Linked DNA regions of Homo sapiens: regions 1 and 3 are each linked to region 2. The links come from fine-mapping of genetic effects on gene expression. A gene starts in region 2. Each other region holds a variant in brackets. All regions are shown on one strand. Distances are from middle to middle.

What was found. PIP is the estimated chance that this variant, and not a neighbour inherited with it, causes the effect. A credible set is the group of variants that fine-mapping cannot tell apart.
Region 1: its variant is the best candidate, but not a certain one, in a credible set for the expression of ADAMTSL4 in whole blood (INTERVAL, PIP 0.56).
Region 3: its variant is the best candidate, but not a certain one, in a credible set for the expression of ADAMTSL4 in monocytes (Fairfax 2014, PIP 0.58).

Annotation. Positions count from the first base shown.
Region 1 is chr1:150,602,138-150,604,895 of GRCh38, forward strand. LOC107985203 (a long non-coding RNA gene) reads left to right here. Exons shown (of 3, transcript NR_186818.1): 3 at 1,983-2,147. Among named protein-coding and RNA genes, the nearest start is that of MCL1, 24 kb to the left of the region's middle. RefSeq lists an enhancer at 2,493-2,758. The variant C/T (reference allele first, on the strand shown) is at 1,141.
Region 2 is chr1:150,548,060-150,550,817 of GRCh38, forward strand. ADAMTSL4 (ADAMTS like 4) reads left to right here and starts at 1,349. Exons shown (of 19, transcript NM_019032.6): 1 at 1,349-1,440; 2 at 1,763-1,836. It overlaps LOC124904417, which reads left to right and starts at 2,231. Exons shown (of 1, transcript XM_047438226.1): 1 at 2,231-2,758. The coding sequence starts at 2,231. It overlaps ADAMTSL4-AS2 (ADAMTSL4 antisense RNA 2), which reads right to left. Exons shown (of 6, transcript NR_187269.1): 6 at 505-691. RefSeq lists silencers at 534-828, 760-909, 1,080-1,219 and an enhancer at 2,555-2,758.
Region 3 is chr1:150,154,256-150,157,013 of GRCh38, forward strand. PLEKHO1 (pleckstrin homology domain containing O1) reads left to right here. Exons shown (of 6, transcript NM_016274.6): 3 at 1,811-1,951; 4 at 2,656-2,758. Among named protein-coding and RNA genes, the nearest start is that of LINC02988, 5.1 kb to the right of the region's middle. The variant G/A (reference allele first, on the strand shown) is at 1,285.

The sequences.
Region 1 (2,758 bases), 54 kb after region 2:
GGCATGTGCCTGTAGTCCCAGCTACTCTGGAGGCCAAAGTGGGAGGATTACTTGGTCTGGGAGGCAGAGGGTGCAGTGAGCCAAGATCATGCCACTACACTCCAGTCTGGGCAACAGAGTGAGACCGTCTAAAAAAAAAAAAAAATTCCCATATATTTCTACATGTAAATACATAGAAAAAGGGCTGGAAGGATATATAATCAATATTAAACAGTGTTTATCTCTGGAAGGAAAGGACCAGGACTTGGAATAATGGCAAGGAAGCCTTGTTTGTAGTTTTTTTTTTTTTTTCATCGTTTTTGAGGAGTCTCACGCTATCGCCCAGGCTGGAGTGCAGTGGTGTCATCTCAGCTCACCGTACCTCCGCCTCTCCGCCTCCTGGGTTTAATCGATTCTCCTGCCTCAGCCTCCTCAGTAGCTAGGATTACAGGTGTCTGCCACCACGGCCAGATAATTTTTTTTTTTTTTTTTTTTTTTTTTAGTAGAGACAGGGTTTCACCATGTTAGCCAGGCTGGTCTCAAACTTCTGACCTCAAGTGATCGGCCGGCCTCGACCTCCCAAACTGCTGGGATTACAGGCATGAGTCACCAAGCCCGGCTTTTTTTTTTTTTTTTTCTTTTTTTAATTTTTTTTTTTTATTATACTCTAAGTTTTAGGGTACATGTGCACATTGTGCAGGTTAGTTACATATGTATACATGTGCCATGCGACCGGCTTTTTTTGTTGTTGTTGTTTTTTGTTTTTGAGTTGGAGTCTTGCTCTGTCATCCAGGCTGAAGTGCAGTAGCATGATCTCGGCTCACTGCAACCTCCACCTCCTGGGTTCAAGCCATTCTCCCGCCTCAGCCTGCCGAGTAGCTGGGACTATAGGAGTACACCATGCCCAGCTAATTTTTTGTATTTTAGTAGAGATGGGGTTTCACCATGTTGCCCAGGCTGGTCTCAAACTCCTAAGCTCAGGCAATCCGCTCACCTTGGCCTCCTAAAGTGCTAGGACTACAGGCGTGAGCCACCATGTCCAACCTGTAGTTTTGTTTTTTTTTTGAATGAAGGTTTTTAATGTTATATGTTGTATAAAATTAATGCATTAATTTATTATTATGAAATCAAAACAACCCTACCTTACCCCGAAAATAACAC[C/T]TGTAGGTTTTTGTCAGTTGTCAGATGGGCATCTTGCTATGTTGCCCAGGCCGGTTTCAAACTCTTGGAGCTCAAGCTACCTTCTGCCTCAGCCTCTAGAGCAGCTAAGACTACAAGTGTGCACCACCATGTCCAGCTTAGGTGTCAGTTTGATATGAGTCAGTAGCATAAGTAGTAAAGAAAACCTAAGGGGGCCTTGGGCTCTCCTACGGTCCAGGTCTACAAGCAAGCAGGTAATGGTTTAGTTCTATTTGGCTTGGTGAGGCCACATCTGGACCAAAGTTAGACAGGCACACTGACACATTTGAGCTCATCCAGAGAGTAGACAAGGTGATGCCAGGAGTCCACACTATGTCAAGGAGGACTAGCTAAAGGGAGGGAAAATGTTTAGGCTAGTAGATGTAGAAAGAGGTGGTCCTCAAACTCTTGACGTTTTCATGAGGGTGAAGATAGTAGATTTCAAGACACTGGAGTTATTCAAGAGACTAAATATTCACTTTCCAGGGATACTGTGAAAAAGATTCACTGAGGAGGCATTCGTTGGAACTAGATTTTTTTTTTTTTTAAGAGACAGGGTTCTGCTGTGTTACCCAGGCTGGTCTCTAACTCCTAAGCTCAAGAGATCCGCTTGCCTCAGCCTGCCAAAGTGATGGGATTACAGGGTAAGCCACGTGCCTGGCCTGGAACTAGATTATCTTAAAGTTAGTTTCCAACTAACTTTATTTCAATTTATTTCAAGTTTCCTTGAAATAAATTGAGTTTTCAATTTATTTCTGGTTCCTTGGCCTCAACCAGATTTATTGAAATTTAAGTCCCTAAAACTGTCTTTTGTTTTATTATAGAGAGGATATTAACCAGAAGGTTACATACTACAATCTGGAAGGAATAATCTCAATATCATGAGTGCCAATTAAGTGCCTCAGAGAATACAAAGGTGACCATAACTGGAATGCTTAACAAGTACCAACTGAAGAAATGTAATGAAAATTAAAGTTTAATTTGTTTTCCCCTGTCTCTGCACAATTTATTTCAGTGGGAGAGGTTTTCCTCAGATGTGGATCACCTTTAGGTAATAGTCTTTGCAACCACTTTAAGTAGCAAAACATACTCTTGGTCCGAAATATATTAACACATCAATTTTCATCATAGGTAAGAATCTCTCTACCCCACAGCTAGGGTCAACAGAGCCAGCCAGCTCGCCTCTGTGAAAGAGGGGGTAGTTGGCTTCTCTCCTTTTGCTACACTGATATTTCTAGGAATGGGGCAGAATGAAGAGGAAGGGTTATTAGTGGCTTCATGCTGTCTAGGCCTGGCTGATGTTAAGAATTATCTCATGAGCATTTGTATGGCTCCATCAGAGGCTTCCCTGGGGGCGCTTTCCAAAGGCAGTGGCAACTTCCTGAAGTGAGGTGATGTATTCTATTTCTATAGCCACCACTCTCTCATTATCCTTTTGTTTTCCAGTGTTCTTTTCCACATGAAGAGCCCCACTATGCATCCAGGCAGTTCTCTTGAGTAGGATTTAAACTGGCTCCACACATGGTCCACAGGATTCATGTATATCTGACCGTTTATCAGAAGCCAGTGTGGTGACTTCCAGGATGTGACTCTCTACTTT
Region 2 (2,758 bases):
TAAAACTAATAGATGGATTGCTCTTGTGGTTAAAAAAATTCACAAAAATAACATTACATAGCTGGGTGCGGTGGCTCACGCCTGTAATCCCAGCACTTTGGGAGGCCGAGGCGGACGGATCACGAGGTCAGGAGATCGAGACCATTCTGGCTAACACGATGAAACCCCGTCTCTACTAAAAATACAAAAAATTAGCCGGGCGTGGTGGCAGACGCCTGTAGTCCCAGCTACTCAGGAGGCTAGGGCAGGAGAATGGCGTGAACCTGGGAGGCGGAGCTTGCAGTGAGCCAAGATAGCACCACTGCACTCCAGCCTGGACGACAGAGTGAGACTCCGTCTCAAAAAAAATAAATAAATAATAATATAATAATAATAAACATAACGCAGAGTAAAAAGCAAAAGCCTTTTTCAGTCCTCCCCCAACCCTGCATCCCTCCCCAGATGTCACCAATACTACTGAGTTTGGGGTGCATTCTTCCATGTATAAATGCATAAAGAGACATATCCAAGCCCATCATATATATTAGATTAGTCCCATTTTGCAGATGAGCAAACTGCACCACACAGGGGTGGAAGTATTCGTCGAAGACCACATAGCTGGCAAGAGCTGGAGCTGAGGTTCAAATCCAGATCAGTCTGACTCAGAAGTCAGCACGCTGTCCTTTCGCTGAGTCCCGAGTGTAAAACCTTACTGAGGAAAAAAACCGAAGCTCATAGAAGTCCCAGCAATCTGAACCACCACTGCCCAACACGGGAGAGGCAGGAGTGACTGAGTTTGCAGGGGAGGCTGCGTGGAGGGGAGAGCCTGGACCCACGCGGATCGGGGGCCGCGGGTACCTCCGTCCAGGGCGCTTCCCTCCCGGACCAGCGGCTCTCCCAGGCCGCCTCGCTCCAGGCGCCCCTGGAGGCTGCCCCGCCTGTGCCGCGCCGCGCCGCGCCGTGTTCGCACCGCTCACCCGAGCGGCTCGGAGGCCCGGGTTGCTTAAGTCCCTAGTCTCAGCCGGGCACGAGGACAGCGCCCGGGAGCGACTGCAGCCTCTGACCCCGGCTGGGCCAGCCCGGGCTGCTTAAGTCCCTAGTCTCGGCCGGGCACGAGGACAGCGCCCGGGAGCGACTGCAGCCTCCGACCCCGGCTGGGCCAGCCCGGGCTTCAGCTCACGCAGCCGTCGGGGGGCGCCCGGCGCGCAGCCCGGGGTGGGTGGTCCTGGCGAGTGGGGCTGCGAGGCAGACCGGCCCCACCCCGGGGCCGCCGAGGGGCGCGGGCTGGGGCGCGTGGCGGGCGGGGCTGGGCGGGGGCGGGCGCGAGGGCGGAGTTGCGGCCGAGGCGGCCGTGACCGGAGCGCGGCTCAGGGGCCCCAGTGGCCGCCGCGGAGCGAGGTTGCCTGGAGAGAGCGCCTGGGCGCAGAAGGGTTAACGGGCCACCGGGGGCTCGCAGAGCAGGTAGAGACCTCCCCGGGACCCCGGCCCCGGCCGCCCCTCTCCCGGGTCCCGTTAGACCGCCCGCCCCGCGCGCCCGCGTCGTCCCCTCTCCCTGCGCTGTGCGGTCGCGACCCCGCCACGACCCCGGACCCAGCTCCGGTGGCCTCGGACAATCTTCCAGCCCCTGGGGTCGAATTCCTGGGGAGGGAGTCTGATCCCGTGGAACTCTGGCCCCATCACCCGGGCGGGGAGTGAACCAAAATTCCTCCTAAGTCACATAGTAAAGTTGGAAAACAGACCCATGACCTCCCCGCGCGGCCGGTGCCTCCTGCCCTCTCTCTAGGAGGGTGCTCTCGGACGGTGTGTCCCCCACTGCACTCCTGAACTTGGAGGACAGGGTCGCCGCGAGGGACGCAGGTGGGTGCCCTTGATCCAGCTCAGCCCGATGGCAGAAGAGGTTGACAAAAAAGAAAGACACCTGTTGGGGTGGCCTGCCAGACCCAGGAGTGGAGGGCTCTGAGGGCCCGGGAATTCGGACTCAGGACAGGGATTCTCCATGGCTAGGCCCAGAAACACAGGGTCCAACCACTCTCCAGCAGGGAGACCTGGGGGTGAAGGGGTGAGCCCTGCGCAGGTCTCTGTTCCTTGGTCTTCACTGGGCAGTGTGGAGAGGTGTGGCCAGGAGGAGCCCGCGTTTGTCCAGACCAGGGTCTACTCTGGCACCAGAGTGACCACCTCTGACCTCTCCTTTCCTCGTCCTGGGCCGGGAACGACACCAAATGAGGGACATGGAAAGGGGTGAGAAGCATAAATGTGCGTGTGTTTCTGCAGAGGAGGGGGCATGGGCCCCTGCCGGGCTGCGCAGGGGAGGGTGGGGTGGGACTTTTCCAGAGAGGGAGCCAGGCCTGGCCCGGGCCCCGGGAGCTCACGTCACCCCCACCCCTCACTTCTCCAGGGAACTGCCAAAGCCAAACCCAGCTCGGGATGGGATTATGTGTACTGGGTAGACCCGTGGAGAGGGGCTGCGAGAAGAGATCTCGGTGGCAGAGAGAAGCAGAGGCAGAGAGGGCATGAAGAGGGGTCGGCATCAGAGAAGGGGCAGGCAGTGACTATCACCCCATTTCTTCTTCCCTCAGCTGGAGTAACAAGAGTCAGGCAGAGCCTGAAGACTTGGGTGGAACATGGGCCCTTCTCTGGAGATCCTGGCCTCCCCCGTTCAGTCAGGGTGGAGTTGCTGACCTTAGTGGCCGGCCCAGCCAGGGGAAGGAGTGGCCATCGGCAACCCCCACCCCAACCCCAATCCCTGAGGCGCCCGCTCTGGCTCAGCCACTCTGACCCC
Region 3 (2,758 bases), 390 kb before region 2:
ATCTTGTATCCCTGTCCCGTGTTTCTGGGAATTGCTCTTGGACACCCCTTGCCAGCACCTTGTCCTACTTCCACCCGTAATCATTCAAGGCCTCTGGCCACTTTCCAGCCCAAAGCCAGGGAACCCTGGAAAGTGGGAGGCCCTGGAGGAGCCAAGCCTTGCTGAAACAAATGGAGGTAGATGTATGAGGCGTCACTCACCTGAATGGGGCCATGTTGACATCTGTCCTCATCTGTCATCAGCCTCCAGGTCCAGCAGCAGTTCAGAAGGATGGGCAGATACAAGACTGTAGATGGTCTGGGTAATGGAAGGGAGAACCACTTCCCCACTTCCAGGTTTCCAGGAACCAGGAGGATAGATGAGTTCACCTCCATGCACACGAGTCCTATTTCAGAACTTGGGAAGTTGGGGACTGTTTTGGAAAATAATTTCAGTCAGGGTGGGTAGATGTCATCCAAGGAAGACGTGAGGCTACTTTTATCTGTTTGTTTAGTTTTAATGAGACAAGTGCTGGTGCTTTTAATTCTCATTCCAGGAAAACGTGACCAGGTTTTTCCTGAGGTGTTCCAACCCTGGGCTCAAGCCACGGAGGGTGGACAGACTGCACGGTCTGGACTTGTAACTAAGTCTCCTCTCTGTAACTTTGGTCCTTGCTAGCCAAAACAAATCCATAAGCCACTGCTTCAGAGTCCCAGAGTTGTAGGAACACCACCTTAGGGGAAAAGAGAAAACATTGTGGTCAGTTTCAGATGAACCTGCGAAGAAATGTTCCTAGAGCTGCTTTGCAGTGCTCAGAAAAGGCTAGTTGGGGTTGGAGAATGTCACTAGGAATGCGGCCTCGATGAGACGTTCAGCAGGAGTGCTAAGAGCTAAATGTTGCTTAAAACCTGCTAAAGGTGGAACCAGAGTGCGGGACGGAGACTATAGCAGGGAGGGCTAAGTTTAGATAGGAGGAAGAGCTTCCTGGCAGTAAAGGGGGCCCAGGCACTCAAACTGGAATAATGGCAAGAAGTCACAGAAGTCACTTTTTTCCAAGTCTAAAGTGTAGTCTCCCAGGGAGAGTCTAAGTGCATTCTTGCCTAGAGATAGGGGGTCTGGAGGAGTTAGTTTGGATTGTCACAGTACCTTAGAGGGAGGAGGAAAGGGTAGGAACTGTAATTGTAGTTTTCAGCTTCTCTGGACAAATTCAGCAAACTGAACACGGGGCTGCCGTCCTGTGGTGGCGATGCTCCTGAAATGAACAAGGAAGATGAGTCTCTATAATTGTACATACCAGAGAAGGAA[G/A]CGAGGTGGGGTGGGAGAGCTATACTGCACACATGTGAGTGGGGAGGCCAGAGACCGCCCCTCGTTCCCTCCAGACACCCCGATAACTGGCCCTGCCTTGATCTTCTTTCTGTGGACCATCAAGGGCCATACAGGTCTGTCTTACTGAGGGCAATGGATCAACCATCTACCATGTCCCTTTAAGGACGTGAGCCTTTTTAGAACATGTAAGCTGTGTCCTTAAGGAAAAGAGTGGGGCGGTTGGTGAAGAGAGGCATAGTGGGACTCTGGAAATGGCAGCCTGGCTAAGGAGAGTGAAGAGAAGGGGTTTAAACAGAAACACACCTTAACATTCAAGACTTGGAGCTGCCCTAGCGTCCTCCTCGATGTGAGGACCTTGTAGGCTTTGGGCAGACGGCCCTCTCCTCTCCTGGCGTGCCTCCCTCTCCTCAGGCTTCCTCTGTTTCCCAAGATGATCTAAACTAACAGTCTGGGTGGAGGGGCTAAATAATTTTATCCTCCTCACCTCACCCCAACCCTCCCCTAGGTAAAAGATGAGAAAAATATTCAAGAGGTATTTGACCTGAGTGACTATGAGAAGTGTGAAGAGCTCCGGAAGTCCAAGAGCAGGAGCAAGAAAAATCATAGCAAGTTTACTCTTGCCCACTCCAAACAGCCCGGTAACACGGTATGTTTCTCCTGCCACCTTGGCTGCTGGAACATGGACAGGGTTGGAGGGGGCAGGGGAGAACTCCTTCCCCTCAGTTTCTCTCTCAGCAATCTTGGTTCAGATTCCCTGAATTGCTCTCCTGCTGGCTTTTATCATTTCACCTGAGAATATTGTAGCCATTTCCTTCTTTCCAGGCAGGCCACCCTTTAACCTGTTCAGCCACAAAGATCATCTCTCTATATATCTCTTTATTTTTCTCTGTCTTATACACACACATCCACACATGTGCATATTTACATCCCTTAGAAGAAAATCCCTGTCCTTGTACCCTGATAGGTGGTTGAAGTTCTGAATCTAATTCATCTTGTCTGAGGGAACCCAGGGAAGTTATTCCTGTCACATTCTATTTCTTCAAACATTGAAAGATTTGTATTTTAATACCTATCCTTCATCAGACTTCCTCTAATTATCTCTAATACCATACTAATATTCAGTATCCTTCTTAGCTCCTCCTTGGTCATTTCTAAAACAACCTCCTAGCTATGCATTTTGCAGGAATAGAAGCTGGGTTTCCTTAAGTTATGGATGACTCTGGAAGCAGAATATCTCTCCTTCCTGGAGCTAGGTCTAAGAAAGTGAGATTATAATCTCTTATTTCTTCATTGTCAAGGTGAGGCACCACCTCTAAAACCCTGGCTGAAACAGGAATCTTCCCCTCACAGGCACCCAACCTGATCTTCCTGGCAGTGAGTCCAGAAGAGAAGGAATCGTGGATCAATGCCCTCAACTCTGCCATCACCCGAGCCAAGAACCGTATCTTGGATG